2 separate regions of the Homo sapiens genome follow, and region 1 is linked to region 2. The links come from fine-mapping of genetic effects on gene expression. A gene starts in region 2. The other region holds a variant in brackets. All regions are shown on one strand. Distances are between the middles of the regions. Region 1 overlaps LOC124904390 (a long non-coding RNA gene). Region 2 holds the start of PHGDH (phosphoglycerate dehydrogenase).

Region 1 (8,336 bases), 37 kb before region 2:
GTGTCAGTCAGGTGAGCCATGTAAGAGGCAGCACAACAAAATGCATGAAGTAGCAGAAGCAGCGTATTACTCACAGGTCCTAGAGGGAGGAGGGCAGCACACCAATAGGAATTGAGAGCCACCTGGTACAAAAAAGCCCAACTAGTATTTAAAATGGATGCCGAGACAACATAAAATGACAATAATTCACTACCATCCCTTACAAACTATGATTTGTAAATATTTTCTCCCATTACCTAAGCTATCTTTTTACTTTCTTGATGATATTCTTTGAAACACAAAATTTTTTATTTAAAGAAGTCTAATTTATTTTTATTGTTGTTGTTGCTTATATCTTGAGTGTTGTATGTAAGAAGGGTTTGCCTACACCAAAGTCACAAAGATTTACTCCTATATTTTCTCCTAAGAGTTTTATAGTTTTAGCTCTTAAATTTAGATCTCTGGTCCGTTTTAATAAATTTTTATAAATGGTATGAGGAAGGGTCCAACTTTGTTCTTTTACACGTAGGTACCCAGCAGTTCCAGCATCAATTTTTGAAAAGATTATTCTTTCTCTCATTGAATTGTCTTGACTCCCTTATTGAAAATCAATTGACCATAATTATAAGGGGTTATATCTGGATTCTCGATTCTGAACTATTGATTTATAAGTCTATCTTTATGCCAGCACCACACTGTCTTAATTACTATAGTTCTGTAGTACATTTTAAAATCAGGAAGTGGGGATCCTATAACTTTTTCCTTTTTTTCAAGATTATTTTGGCTATTCTGGATGCCTCACATTTGTACATGAATTTTGTGTTTAGTTTCTCAATTTTTGCATACAAGCCAGCTGGGATTTTTAGGGATTGTGTTGGATCTGTACATCAATTTAGGGAGAATTGTCATCTTAACAGTATCTAGTCTTCTGATCCATGAGCATGTATGTCTTTCCATTTATTTGGATCTTCTTTAAGTTCTTTCAACAATGTTTTCTAATTTTTAGAGTACAAGATTTACCCTACTTTGGGAGGCTGGGGCTGGAGGATCACTTGAGCCCCACAGTTCAAGGCTACAGTGATTTATGATCATGCCACTGTGCTCCAGCCTGGGTGACAGAGAGAGACTCTGTCTCTAAAACAACAACAATAAAAAACAAACAAACAAAAATGACTTACTTTTGTCTTACTAAATTTATTCCTATTTCTATTTTATAATTCCTATTTTCTTGATGCTGCTGTCACTGGAATTATTTTCTAATTTCTTCAGATTTTTAATAAAGCATGTAGAAGTACAATTCATTTTGTGTGTTAATCTTTTTATTTTTATTTCTTTCCTTTTTTTTTTAAGAGACATAAGCTCGCTATGTTGCCCAGGCTGCTCTCAAATTTGTGGCCTCAAGAGATCATCCTGCCTTGGCCTTCCAAAGCTCTGGGATTACAGGCACAAGCTAATATACCTGGACCACTTTGTTTATTAATCTTAAATCTTACAATTTTTCTGAACTCATTTATTAGTTCTAATAGTTTAAGTAAATTTCTTAGTATTTTCTATATGCAAGATCATGTCATCTGCAAATAGAAAGAGTTAGTTTTACTTTTTCCTTTCCGATCTGGATGCATTTTGTTTTATTTTCTTGCCTACTTGCCCTTCCAGCACACTACTGAATAGAAGTGGTGAGAGCAGACATTCTTGTCTTATTCCTGAAAGAGGAAGTACTTGCTTTAGTCATAAAGCTATAATAGCTAAAACAATAATTGTGGTTCTGGCATAAGAAAAGATAGGCAAATCAATGAAATAAAAAGAATAGCTCAGAAGCAGATACTAAAACAGAGAAGTTAAAATATCATGAGGGAAGCGCTACAAATCAGTGGTGGAAGGTTGAACTACTGGATAAATTGTGGCTCTAAAAAACTAGTTGGATGTTTTGGGGAAAAATCAATTAAGGGATTCACATGATACATCAATATACAATTTTAATGGATAAGAATTAAATATAGAGAAACACATCACACCATTAGTAAATATAAAATATAAAAGCAACGCCTGGATGAAAATCAAATCTCCAGATAAGAAAGAACATTTCGAAATGGCTTTCCAAATTTTTAAGTTATCATGTTTTTTGACTCGGCAATTTAACTAAAAGAATGCAAACATCATCTTTATGGATCTCAGACAATTGACTAGCTTTCTCATTGCTACATTTGCGGATGGTAGAAAGTCAATACATACTTATGAATTTAAAAAAAAGTTGTACAAAAACTTAAAGGTGTACGTTCAGGAAGGATGTCATAGCGGTGCCATTTGCGTGAGTCAGTAGCCAACAGTCACCCTATGCCTTGAGATTTAAATGAAGTTCACCTGGGAATCCTAACCCTGTCAGATGTACATTGCCCTCCCTGTGATTTCTGTGAGTTATGGCAGTTTTATTTTCTCACAGTTCTTTCTATCTTGCTCAGAGCTCTGGTTCTGTCTCAAGCCCACTTGCATCTCACCTCTTTTAGCCTGTCTTGTCTTTTTGACTTGAACCAATGTACATGTGAAATTCAATACCCTTTCCTTACCTATCTTTTCAAGATAAAACAAGACAAAGCAGAACAACAAAAACACCTCCCAAGCCATCTGAATGTGGATTTTTTACAACCACACAAACTGACTCATTCAAAAATTAATATTAGACTTTCTCATACATAAAGGCCCTTTGTCCTCTTGTCCTCTTTCCCATGAAGAATTTCTCACTGGCCACATTTCTCCATGGGCTCTGGTATCCTGCTTGTCACTTGACCTTCTCTCTCCACCTCAAGCATTTCCTGACATTTTATCAGTTCTGTGTTTTCAGGATTTGCTTTCCCATGGACTATTTAGAGACAGTCAAAATACCCAAGGGGAATAAAATCAAGCTTTTAAAGAATTAAAATAAGTTTTATTCACAGTCCTTACTGAGGACTATAGACTGAGGCCCATAGCCCAGGAGGAGTCTTTCAGAGAGGTCTGTCGGACTCCTCTAAAGCAGTGTTTCAGCCCATTGGTAGGTAGGTGGTGGAGGTTAAGTATATGCAAAATCACATCTATGTTTGGGTGCAAGAGTACATTTGATTACAGTTTACTAAAGCACATTTGGTTATAGGTAGTAGAAGCATAGTGACTAAGCCCATGAGATGTTATCGTGTGTAAGAAAAGGCAAGGGCTAGCTAGGGTCAATTAACTTTTAAGAAATATAGTGACTCAGACAAGAGGCATGGGGGATGTGCTCTATCCTGTTTTGTCAAAGTATCTTTCTGGAGAGCTGCAGGCCTCACAATCAGGGGCTTTGTAAAATTACCCTGG[C/T]AAGCAGAAACAGGCAAACACCGCTCCTTCCGTTTGTTTGCTACTTTGTCTCTCGGTATGCAGAACAATTCTGCTTTCTAACCCTCTCCATTCCTGGACCTTCTTTGCATGTCTAAAGCTTTGATAACATCTAGACTACTGGAGGGACCATTAATTTGGCCTCAAGCTTTAACAGTACAGAAAATGGGTGGAGGTTTCCACATTTCAGACTTCCTTTTCTCTTTTACCCACCAAGATTTACAAGTAAAAGGAAGCAATATGGATACTTGTTTTCCCTCTGCTATGAAATATGCCTTTCTTCTTCCCTTACAAGTGGCTACAGACAGTTTGGGTTTTAAATATTTTTTTTCACCAAGCTACATTTGTAAAAGTAAGAAAATTAAAAATGATCCAAATGATCATCCATAGAAGATACCAGGTTAAATAAATCATGATACAATAGACTGAAGGATGTAATCGGTCCAGATGTTCTGAAATGGAAAGATGACCAAAATCTATTGTTAAGATACAACAACAACAACAAAAATGTAAGTTGAAAAGCCAGTTGCCCGAACGTATGTGTAATATGAAACCATTTGGCAATGTCTGGATGCATTATTGGTTGTCACAACTAGGCGGTGGTGGTGGTGGTGGTGAGGCTACTACTGGCCTCTAGTGGGCAGAGGCCAGGGTTGCTGCTTATCATTCTACAATCCACAGGGCAGCTTTCCAAAGAATTTGCTGGCCGCAAATACCAACAGGTCTGAGATTAAGAAACCCTGTTCTAGATGAATATACACCAAACTTTCAACAGTGGATATCTCCAAGAGTTGAATTATAGAGGAATTATACTTTTTCTAAATTTTTAATCTATTCGCATTTCTTGTAACGAGCTTATTATATTCAGAAAAAAATGTGAAAAGCTATAAACAGTTGGAAGAGCTTGCACATAAAAAAATAAATATTTCTAATCAAATTACACAGAAGATGAGCAGATAGGGAGAGAGCAGTGCCACAGAATCTAGGACAGGAGAGACCTCCCTTCCCAAGGACACCCAGTTGGGAGGGAACTCAGGTAAGAATCAGCCCTTCATTCAAATGGAGGAATTTCCTCCCGAGAGCACATCTCACCAATAGCCAGTTCTTTCCTAGTCTCACGGGGCGGTGCTCTGTCTTCGGAGATTACGGGTGGTCGAAGGGGAGGGAGGCCGGGTGTGGAAGCTTGTGTTCCTCCCTGTCTGAACATGATACCCAGAATCCAGGGGTTTGGAGAATGTAACTGTTAGGTGCTTAATAGAACATAAAAGTACACGTGAAATAGAAGTCATAGTGCTATTTATTCTTCCACGGGGCAAATTTCCCTTTTTAATTTTTCTCTAGTTGTTTTGTTACACTGGAATCTCTTGAGCGCCATCTGGTGGACAGATTTCCATCACCCAATCAGATGGTCAGCCTTCCCCACAAACATTTTAGTCACACTATGCCTCTGTCCGGCAGGATCATGTCTTGTCTTCAATGCCCCAGCACTTTGTGCAGTTGACACATTATAGGTAACCAGAGTCTGTTTGTTGAAGTAGTAAACATTGGTCCATTAGAAGCTGGGAGTGAATATTGAAGTCAGGTATGAATTGGCATTGGGAAGAAGGAGCTGAAAAGCAGGAATAAGCTGTCCTGATTGTGAAGGGTGAGTGCAATGCCGGACTGAGAAATAAAACTAACTCCAGGCCAAAGAGCGTTGGAGATTCCCAACAGGCTCCCCAAGGACACACAGGGAGCCCAGTAGAATTTTCCTGGAGCCTACTGAATTTCTGCTAGGAGTGGACTCGGCCCTCTGCCCAAATGAGGTGCCATGAGGTACACAAAGGCTCTAATATGTAATTTGACACTTCCCTGGGTAAAACAGAAAGTACACTGGCCAGACCCCAAAGTAAACTTACGTACTTCCTCTTTACCCCTTTTTTTCTGCTTTAAAAAATCTCAGCGATTCTTTCCTGCCTTTCTTTTTTTTTTTTTTTTTGAGACGGGGTCTCGCTCTGTCACTCAGGCTGCAGTGCAGTGATGCGATCTCGGCTCACTGCAAGCTCCACCTCCCGAGTTCACACCATTCTCCTGCCTCAGCCTCCCGAGTAGCTGGGACTACAGGCGCCCGCCACCACGCCCGGCTAATTTTTTATATTTTTAGTAGAGACGGGGTTTCACTGTGTTAGCTAGGATGGTCTTGATCTCCTGACCTTGTGATCCGCCCGCCTCGGCCTCCCAGAGTGCTGGGATTACAGGCGTGAGCCACTGCGCCCGGCCTCTTTCCTGTCTTTCAGCTCTGCTCCTCTCAATTCCCCAATAACACAATCCCTAGTCTCCTAAGAGTGGGCCCCAGGATAGTCTGCAAACTCATCACCTTCTAAGGGGGACTGCTGTCACTGAGTGGTCCCAAGTGGGCACTAGAGGCCAGTGTTGCAATGTTTTCAGTCTTTTCAAAAGAAATAGAAATCTTTATTATCTTGTGAAATCCCTTAGTTTGGAGCCAATATTGGCTCCAATTACTTTTGAAACACTCCATGGGCCAAAAAGCACTTGTGTTTATGGCCAACAATTAGTAACCCATCAAAGAGGCTCTCTGGACTGAGTGTAGTGGCTAATGCCTGTAATCCCAGCACCTTGGGAGGCCAAAGTAGGAGGATCACTTGAGCCCAGGACTTGGAGACCAGCCTGAGCAACATAGCAAGACCCCGTCTCTACAAAATTTAAAAAATTAGCTGAGTGTAGTGGCGTGGGTCTGCGGTCCCAGCTACTTGGGAGGCTGAAGTGAGAGGATTGCTTAACCCAGAAGGTTGGGGCTTCAATGAGCCATATTCTTGGCACTGCACTCCAGTGTAAGTGATAGAATGAGACTCTGTCTCAAGAATAAAAAAATTAAAAAATTAAAAAAAGAAGATTTCTAAGCTTCTTCCCAACGTTTCTGACACACTGTGACTCTAACCTCTGCCCACATTTCTACATGGCTAATTTTTAAATAAGGTCAACTGCTGATCCTAGGTCAGCAAGAACCACAAGGTCAGGAGTGTTCTTTCTTCGAAGTTTCAGGTTAATCAGTTTCTGTTTAGGAAAAAGAACAAGACTTCTCTTTAGGTAAGGTATCTACCAGAGCAGCCCCCACTCCCACCCGAAAGTCACCTGAATACAGCTATTTCCTGTGCCTCTTTCTGCTACAAATCTCTGCAGCATGTTTTGTTTTATGCATCAAAACTAGATCGACCTCTGCATTCTGATCATTCCCCCACGGTGTTGTCTTTTTCCAAACTTTCTGTTTTCATTAACTTAAAGTCTATGATGCTATCAAACTGATTAAGCTCATTCCAACCAAGCACCACATGCTGAAGCTAGTGAATCACATTGCCAGTTGGGCTTTAAAAAGAACAGGTTTGAATGTACATCCTAATGTATTATATACTATATTGTGAATATGGATTGTGTTGAAGCTATAATTATGAGGGATTTAATACATTGGGGTCTACATTCAACCCCGATGTACACATACTTATATATATGTAAAATGTTTAGCCCATTAACTTTGCCTTGCTGACAGTTGTGGGAAAGTTTCTAGAGTTGTCAGTCACAAGGTCTTGTGAGAATCTGATCTAAGCAACTCAGCCTTCCCTCAAGAAAAAAGCACTCATAAGCAAACAATTTCCCAAAGTCTGTGCATAGACCCTTAGGCATACCTGAACCCCAGGTAAGAACTCCTGCTGTATCAGTGAGGGGCAAGGCAACTGCTCAGAGCCTGTAGGTCTCATTTAATTTGAAGGTGGCTGGTTGACCCTAAGCTCTTTCTCAGTACATCACGCCTTCCAGTAGAACTGAACCAAAACTCTAAGACACCCTGTTTATGCTCCCTTGGGAATTTAGGGCCCTTACCATGTATAGCTTCTCTGGGGTGGTTTCTGATGCTCATCAATTCTCTGACATCAACTGGGTATGTTACCAGTGGAAGATATCCTGGTTATCGGTGGCAAATTCATATGTGTCTGCAGCAACCTCAATTCTTGCCTCCTCAGAAGAAAGAATTCAACTGAGGGGCATAAGGCAGAAAAAAGACTGAGGCAAGTTTCATTGTAGGAGTGGAAGTTTATTAAAAAGCTTTAGAGCAGGAAAGGAAAGTGCTTTCGGAAGGGACGCAAGTGGGCACTGAGAAGGTCAAGTGCCTGGTTTAACCATCATCCTAGGACTTTATAGGCTGGCAAACTCTGGCGTCTTGCGCCCCCTTTCCATGATTCTTCCCTTAGGGTGTGTTGCCTGCATGCACAGTGCCCTCCTTACCCTTGGGAATTGAGCACATGCAGTGTGTTTAGGAAGTTGTATGCATGCCCATCTGAGACTTTCTTCCCTTTTCTGGTGGAGTGCCACCAGAAGGTCATACTCCACCATTTTGTCTCTTAATGCGCAGGCCTGGGAAATTGCCTCTCTGGTGTCTGCTGTCAATCAACACTTCAGTGCAATGGGTATGGACCATCAAGAAATGGCCTCTCTCTGGAGGCTGGCTGCCAATTTATCGCTTTTAGAGAGGCAACGTGATAATCATCAAACCGTCACCTGCCATTCCTGGTGGGTGGGGGAGAGCCCTCTCCTGCCCCACTCACGCCTAACTACCTGTAACAGGTATCAAAAATTCAATTATGACACTATCTGGAGTTAGTGCAGACACAGATTAAGGGCTCAGTCCTATAAGACTGCACTGACTTCAAATGTCAGTCTCATCTGGGCCAGGCCACCCATGCTTCTGACCTACCAGCTATAAATCAAGGATTCCCAAGATCCCCTCCTCAAGTTCAATAATTTGATATAAGAGCTCACAGAACTCAGAAAAACAGTTTACTTACATTTACTGACTTATTATAAAGGATACAACTCAGGAACAGCCAAATGGAAGAGACGCAGAGGGCAAGGTATGGGGGAGTAGGGTGAGGGTGGCACAGAGCTTCAATGGCCTCTCTGGGTGTGTCACCTCCCAGCACCCAGTAGCTCTCTGAATCTATTGTTCAAGAGTTTATAGAGCT
Region 2 (8,336 bases):
AATATACACTGATTGAGTGGATGAATGAAGGAAAGTCAAGCACTAGAGATTACACTCACTTGTATGCTTTGCCTTATTTAATCCCTACAAAAGCCTTATGAAGTAAGCACTATCATACTATTCATTCCATATTACATAGGAGAAAACTAAGTCTTAGGGGGGCAATGTAATTTGCCCAAAATCACATTGTTCATAACTTGAGAAGCTGAAATTCAAATCAAGATATGCCTGTTTTACGGATGACAGTTCATTTTCTGCATCTTAAAATATCATTTTATTTCTTTTTTTATTATACTTTAAGTTCTAGGGTACATGTGCACGACATGCAGGTTTGTTACATATTTTATTTCTTATGATTCGAGTTTGGATATCACAGCTGGTCTCCAAGCAGAAAAAGAGAGTTCCTACTCTCCTCCCCTTAACCCCATTAACTTTATCCTCAGAGTTACAGGCGGAACAGCTGGACATCTTGCAACCTTAGGTAGGGGTAGGTCTTGCCTTGACAGATTCACTACACACAAGGAAGCAGGAGTGTGTACATTATTTTAGGCTTCCAGCTTCGAAAGAGAGAGCCAAAAGGGGCTGGCCTGGGCACGCACTAGGACCTTTTCCCCAAACTTCACTAATCAGAGTGGTTTTCTCTTCTGAAGGGGTTGGGGCCAGAGGAAGGGAGAGAAGGAGGGGTCTGAGGAGAAGGGCAGAACTGTTTTCCTACTACTTCCAAGCTGGCCAAAGTTCCTGTTTTATGGATGGATGCAATAACACAGGGAGAGGGAGAAATTTCCCCAACTCCAACCCTCAGTTATCAAAGAAAAACCCTTAGTTTGCAATTGATGTTGGAGATTCTGGGGTGTAGTGGTGAGGGATATATCTGTATTGGCAGTATCAGGTCTCAGCCCGACCAGCAACACATTTGATGATATCGCTTCTAAAAATCACTCGGTACCTCTGTACTAACTTTGGAGTCAAGTTTAAACTCCTCCTCAGGGCAAGACACTTCATGAGCAGCCCCTGGCCCCTCTGCAGTCTCACCTCCTGGTATCCCACTGGCATCCCCCACAGCCATGGTAGAGAAGCCATGAACATGTTGCAACTCCTCACAACTCTAAGCCTTTGGAAATGTCATTTCTTCTCCCCCGGCTAATTCATATTCAGCTCTCAAGATTAGGCAGTTAACCATGAGCAGCTTCAAGGCAGGTTATGTTTTACCTATCTCTGTATCCTTGAGCCTCTCAAAGTAGCTGCCTTGAATGAGTTTCAAAAGGTTAGCTGAAAGGCAACCTTGCTTGGAAATCCTCCTGGCACCTCAGGAGATGGTTCTCCTCCTTGCTCCCAAAGCCCTCCAGCACACCTTTATTTATAATTCTTAAACTATACCTTTTTAATTTTTTTTATTATTTTTTAGAGACAGGTCTCACTCTGTTGCCCAGGTTGGAGTGCAGTGGCACAATCATGGTTCACTGCAGCCTCGAACTCCTGGGCTCAAGCAATCCTCCTGCCTCAGCCTCCCAAGTAGATAGGACTACAGCAATGTGCCACCATGCCGGGGTACTCTTCTTAAAATGTTGTTCTTTTTTCTTTTTGAGGAAAGAAGGCTGTGTCTTATGTGTCACAGGGCCTAGCCCATAGGAGGTACTGGATAAATTAATTTTTGAATCAAACCTCTTCTGAGCCTCTGTGATGTGGAAGGCATGGTGCTAGGCACTACTGGGGGTATACAAAATCGTGTCTCTGATTTAAGGAAATGAGAGTTCATGGGGAACAAGACATGAAAAGTTCATAAATATATTGCTTAAGGCACTGTGAGATAACTTGAAGTTAATTCTATAGAAATTTAAAAGGAGGGAACATTTCTGACTTATGTAACAATTATCACACACCCTCCTTTTCACTTGGAAATGGACTCTTAATCTGTTAATTATTTTCTTAACGGTTTAGAAGTGTCTTTTATTGTGTGGCTTGGATCTGTTTAAAAAGTAGGTGGGTCATAAATAATAAATAAAGAAAACAGGTGATCAGGCTTAGGAGGCCCTCTGGGTTGTGCGTTCAGACAGTATCCAAGAAGTTTGACTTGGTGTGAAAGGGTGGGATTACATGTTAATGATAGCAGGGTTTAGATTCTACACTGAAAGGAAGCAGTTAGTGAGCCCTGGGAGGAGTTGAAGGAAAGCAGTTACAAAAATGGATGCTTCCCAAGACCCTCCATTAAGCCTCCTGGGATAGGTCCCCTGTCTGTCCCTAGACTCCAGGGTACTGCTGGGCACTTCAAGAGAGACAGAGAATTTGAATACTCATGAGTCTTGGAATGTAGGAATAACAATTCATCCGAACAAGCAAACATGATAGACAATTTTTTTTTTTACCCACTGAGGACATTGTGTCTAAAAATCTGATTTGTGCCCAGGAATTATCTGTATAGAATTTTCATTACTTTATAGAATTGATATTGCATAGTTCTGTAGGATAAGGATCTAGCACTTGAGTTATGAATAGCTCAGGATGACATAACACACAATGGTTAGTTGGACTGGATATGTCCATAAAGCTGAATTCTAATTCAACTATGAGCATCTCTGATTCTGCTTCTGATTCTAGGTGACTTTAATCCCAAATTGAATTTTCTGACATTTCTGTAAAATGGGGCATGAGAGAGCACGTCGGTTATGGGGTTTAAATATAAAAGAGTTAAGAGCTGAGAAGTGCCTCCTTGGTCAATTAAACCACACTGACATCCCGTTTTCCTTTTCTTCTTTTTCATAATTAGAGAGGAAGTGGAGGGAAAGGAAATAAATAACTTTAACAAAGTATGCCTAGTTTAAATGCACCAGGTCCCCGCTCTTTTATAAACTCATAATTCTCATTGCATCACTAATTTGAAATTAATCACAGCTCCTTGGTGTCTCAGAAAGCTTCCTATTGCTTTTCACTACGTAACTTTCCAAGTCTGTGTGTTTGGTACTCTAGGATGTTAGGCCACCAGAGGAAAGAGGATGTATCTTTTTTTTTTTTATACTTTAAGTTTTAGGGTACATGTGCACAATGCGCAGGTTAGTTACATATGTATACATGTGCCATGCTGGTGTGCTGCACCCATTAACTCGTCATTTAGCATTAGGTATATCTCCTAATGCTATCCCTCCCCCCCTCCCCCCACCCCACAACAGTCCCCAGAGTGTGATGTTCCCCTTCCTGTGTCCATGTGTTCTCATTGTTCAATTCCCACCTATGAGTGAGAATATGCGGTGTTTGGTTTTTTGTTCTTGCGATAGTTTACTGAGAATGATGATTTCCAATTTCATCCATGTCCCTACAAAGGACATGAACTCATCATTTTTTATGGCTGCATAGTATTCCATGGTGTATATGTGCCATATTTTCTTAATCCAGTCTATCATTGTTGGACATTTTCTTTTTGATAGTCGAATTCCCTTCAACGTCTAGCACAGTGCCTTGCACATTTACCCACTCAAAAAAAATTTCGTAAGGAATTAATAAATGAATCCTTAGGAGGAAAAGTGAAAATGAAGTTTTTCTCTCAGGATGAGGTGTATTTCTCCGTTCATTTCAGATATGCATCAGCTAGTCAGCGTAAATTGTGCTTTTTATATGCTCACCAGGTGTAGGTAAGAGCTTTGGCTGAGATGGAGAAATTCATCGCGGGAGGATAATAAAGCGGGCAGGGATTTGGCAACCTCAGAGCCGCGAGGAGGAGGCGGAGTCGCGGAGAGTTTGAGTATTTCCGTCCAATCAAAAGGAGACTGTAAGAGGAGGAGGAGGAGGAGATGACTGGGGAGCGGGAGCTGGAGAATACTGCCCAGTTACTCTAGCGCGCCAGGCCGAACCGCAGCTTCTTGGCTTAGGTACTTCTACTCACAGCGGCCGATTCCGAGGCCAACTCCAGCAATGGCTTTTGCAAATCTGCGGAAAGTGCTCATCAGTGACAGCCTGGACCCTTGCTGCCGGAAGATCTTGCAAGATGGAGGGCTGCAGGTGGTGGAAAAGCAGAACCTTAGCAAAGAGGAGCTGATAGCGGAGCTGCAGGTAAGGCGAGAGAGAGAAAATTGAGGTCTCTAGGGCAACCTCCATGGAAAAAGGCTGGCTGCGCCCAGGCCAGCGCGCCCCCCTCGCATGCACCCCGTATCAATTAGTTCCGGGGCCTCCTGAGATTGGGGGGTAGAGAAGAACGGGGGCGGGAGGAGGCAGAAAGAGGGAAGAACAAACGGCGGCGAGATGCAAACTTTTCTTTTAGTTTGCAACCGCGTCTTTCACGTTGGCATGCCTCCGCTAGCATTGCAAAGTGCGGGCTGCTCCAACTGGTCCTGCAGGCTGCTCGCGGATGCCAGCGCGGGATGCCAGCGCGGCGCCCCAGCGCCTTAGCGCGCAATTGTTCTGGCAGCCTCGCGCCGCCTCTCCCCCAACCCCCAACCGCCTCCGCGCGGGGCGATCGGGAGAGGGGCCCCAAAGTGGCTTCTTTGCGGGGAACCCAGGGACTGGCGATTCTTCCCAACCAAGTTCTGGGCCGCCCCGCCGATTCTAGCCTGCCTTGGCGGTGGCGGGGTTGGGGGGGTCGGGGGGCGGGGGGAAGCTGGCGGAGACCCAACCAGTCTGGTGGCTGCTGGGGCAGCTGGAGGGGAAGGCAGCCCTCGTAAGGCAGCAAACACGTACCCGCCCCTCGTCTGATGCAAGACTGCTCCGTGCTTTCGCCGCCCCTCTGCCTCCTGGGAGCCTTCGGAGGAAAGGGAGGCGGGCGGGGAGCGCTGGGGTCCAGATTTAGCCTCCTCCCCACCTTTGGTTTATCGCTGGTTGGGAGTGACCAGACTCGACTAGAATCCGATCCCAAACGCTCCCAGATGATTTATAGTCTTAGCAAATTTTTATCTCCTTTTGTTGTGATATATAATTAATCTACTTCAAATCTTTATCCACCGTGTTTGAAAAGGCCTGCTGGGCCTGGTGGCCTTGTCCGGAATATTTATTTTGTGAACTCTTCACTCCAGTGCCTGCACTTTCGACCTCTGTAGTCGACCCAGCTGCCCAGTCTCTACCTCACCTGATCCAGTATATTCTCCCCCACCCTCCAAATCGCACAACCGCCTTCTGCCCGCCTCAGCCCTGTCCACCACCTTCAGCCGTCTCCTCCTCCGAGGACCCCTTAGACCGCAGAGGCTGCTGTTGTTGCTTTAGTTGTGCCACAACCACGTGGTCCTGGAAACTGCCTCGCTCACTTTGTCTGCCTTTGTATCTGCTGGCGTGGATCTTGTCACCATGGCATGACACTATATCCAAGTATCCAGCTCTGCCCTGTACTCAGAAGAATTTGGTCCCTGCCTTCAAGAAGTTTGTAAGCTGGTTAGGGAGCATGGCTAATACGCAGGAGACAGTTGAGCAGATGACACAAGAGCATAGCCCCGAATTAGACCATCCAGCTCCCTAACCTTTGCGTGTTCCCCTTCTGGAAAAGCCAGAGAAAGGTCCAATCATCATGCACAGAATTGGTGGGCAAGGGCTTAGGACTTGAGTAGGATTGGACGGGTGGCAGGCTCCTCACATCTGTCACCTCCTTTCTTGTGTGAAATTGTATCAGTGGCTCTGGGGAACAACCAGGAAAGGCAGTGGGGTGTCCTGCAGAACAGCCTCTGACTCTCACCTCCACCAGAGCACCAGGTTGGGAAGAGGGTGGCAATCAAGTGCTTTCACCTCTCTAAAGGAAATTAGAAACCTGATACCCCAGTGAGGGGGTGGGGATAGGGAGGGATGAGGGCAGAATTGAGAGGAATGGGAGGCCTCATCCATAATGAGGGGTTGTTCCATGAAGTCAGGAATCAGCTGGGTGGATGCTGGGAGTCTGGTGCTGAAACTTGGAGAACATTTTAAAGGCGCTGAAAACTCTTGGCAGGAGAGGAGGAGTGTTTGTTGGCTAACTTGACTGCTGGGCATTTTTGGACTGTTTGGGAGGGCTCAGCTTTCTTGTCTGTCTTTGCAACACATTTGGTTCAGAATGCCAATTAATCTCCTTGGTCAGCCCACTGAAGGGTCCTCATTTCTACACTATGCCTTTTTATTCTGCATGAAGAGGTGTCTGGCATAGTGTCTCCTGCCCTCCCCCACTGAAGTCTCTTTAATGCTGAAGGAAGCTTCGGCAGCGTTGCTAGAACCGGGCCTGGCCTTGGTTCCCACTGCCTTGTATTCTGGGCAGGCGGTCTCCTCTCACTCACCCCCTGGTCAGGAAGTACAATCATTCCTCCCTGCCCTTTCAGTGGTGCTTTTCAGACTTGGAGCAAGTCATAGTTCAGTTTAAGGGGTCATGACGAGCATTTTAAAAAACAAAGTAGGAAATATCAGACAGCAATGCAGATAGATAGTAAGGTTGTAAGTATTGTTTCATGAATTTTGTTTCATTTATGTTGTGTAGTTGTATGTGTGTGGCATGTGAGTATGAAATTACAACTTAAAAATGTGTTTCTTGGCCGGGCGCGGTGGCTCACGCCTGTAATCCCAACACTTTGGGAGGGGCCAAAGGAGGCAGATCATTTGAACTGAGGAGGTTGAGACCAGACTGGGCAACATGGCAAAACCCTGTCTCTACAAAAAATACGAACATTAGCTAAGCATCTTGCACAAGCCTGTAGTCTCAGCTACTGGGGGATGGGGTGGAGGGCTGAGGCCCTGGTTGCTGTCACTCTTCCCAACCTGGTGCTCTAGTGGGAGGATCGCTTGAGCCTAGGAGTTTGAGGCTGCAGTAAGCCATGATCTCGCCACTGCAATCCAGCCTGGGCAACAGAGCTAGACCCTGTCCCACCCCTCCACCAACAAAGATGTGTTTCTTACAATGAACCTCAGTCAAAAAAGTTTGGAAAACGTTGGCTTAAAATAATAAAGCATCTTGTTTGGAACTCACATCTTAAATATACCTAATATGCCGGAAAATATTTAAATAATATTACCATGTATCAGTGGCTTTTAAACTTTGACTGTGACCCACAATAAGAAATTTGTTTTATGTCATAACTTAAACACTCATACATATGTGTACACACAGACACACACAAATTTTATGAAATAATACTTACTCTTTTTACATATGATGCATTCTGGTATTTTCTTCTGTTTCATTAAGTAGCATTGCTGGTCAGGACCACTAAACTAAACACTGGTAATGGTATTTAATTTACTGAAGCACATCCATACCTTCATATCAGTACTTGAAGAAAGATTAAGAAGGGAATAAATCTTTCCATGCCAAATTTCTTTTCAAATTTCTTTAAAATAGGAAGTTCCCAGCCTTTACACAAGGATTTAGTTTGCAAAAGTTAAATAACCATCAAATTAATCAGGATCACACATCTTGTGCAAAACAGGGTAGACCTGCCTTCCCTATAGCTGGGGAACATGACCTGGATAGTTTCATTGTCTTGCCCTATGATTTAAGTCAGAGGCATGGCAATGCTAGAATTACCTCCTAGGCCAAGCTTGTCCCCTTGGGAAAGGAAGCATGTGTGAACCTGAGGAATGGCAATGGATTCCCATTGCTGAGTTAGCAGTTTGTCTCGAACAGCCATAAATCAAGCAGTTTTCTAGCTGAACAGCAGCTAAGGACAGGGGAGCGGGAGGACTTGTAGGAAGTGTGGGAAGTGCCTGTTCCCGCCACAGTGCAGACACAGAAGCCACACGCAGAGGGCAGTGAACATCAGAATTTGGTGCTGTGTAGAGAGAGACTTGCTTCCTCACCCAAGGAATGACAAAGAGAGGGGAGGATCTCTGGACACTGGAGAAGTTTTAATCGCAAACTGCAGAGGATGTGAGCAGATGGGTGCATTTGGTTAGGGCTGTGGTTTCCATAAGTAGAGGACAGGAGCAGACAGCTTGGGGCAAAGTCTTTGAAGGGGGTGCGTTGTGGCGTGAGGAGGGAAGGGGCTTGGGTGCAGGGGCTTTGAGGGTCCAGCAGGAGGTAGGTTGGATTCAGGCTGTCTGTGAATATGTGCTGATTGAATGAGTGGATAGAGTGGGTAGTTGAGGTTGTAAGAGGCCTTGGAAGCTCATTAACTCTGACTGATGTGGGATGTCTGGTTCTAATGTGGGACCAAGGTCTCCTGAGTGACAGTTTCTGCCCTTGGGAGAGGTGAGACCTGATGCTCATCTGTAGGAGTCTGACTGGGGACTCTTAGTTTCCCTGGCACCAAAGAAGGCTGGTTTGAGGGAAAAGTGAAGAGACTACAGCATAAATCTTTACAAGGGAGATCCATCCAGAGAGTCCATGCTCATGAAAGAAACAATAGTGCTGTTTCTGTGCTTGTTCAGGGGCTACAAGAATGGGTGGACTTTGGGGAGTCTGCATG

The links. PIP is the estimated chance that this variant, and not a neighbour inherited with it, causes the effect.
Region 1: its variant is fine-mapped to the expression of PHGDH in esophagus mucosa (GTEx, PIP 0.95).

What each region holds. Positions count from the first base shown.
Region 1 is chr1:119,671,042-119,679,377 of GRCh38, forward strand. LOC124904390 (a long non-coding RNA gene) reads left to right here. Exons shown (of 2, transcript XR_007066508.1): 2 at 1-473. Among named protein-coding and RNA genes, the nearest start is that of ZNF697, 27 kb to the left of the region's middle. RefSeq lists enhancers at 4,585-5,086, 8,194-8,336. The variant C/T (reference allele first, on the strand shown) is at 3,307.
Region 2 is chr1:119,708,120-119,716,455 of GRCh38, forward strand. It overlaps PHGDH (phosphoglycerate dehydrogenase), which reads left to right and starts at 3,815. Exons shown (of 12, transcript NM_006623.4): 1 at 3,815-4,041. The coding sequence starts at 3,904. It overlaps LOC105378937 (a long non-coding RNA gene), which reads right to left and starts at 3,727. Exons shown (of 3, transcript XR_947757.4): 1 at 3,615-3,727. RefSeq lists enhancers at 3,607-4,136, 3,618-3,667, 3,808-4,087, 4,138-4,227 and a silencer at 4,368-4,467.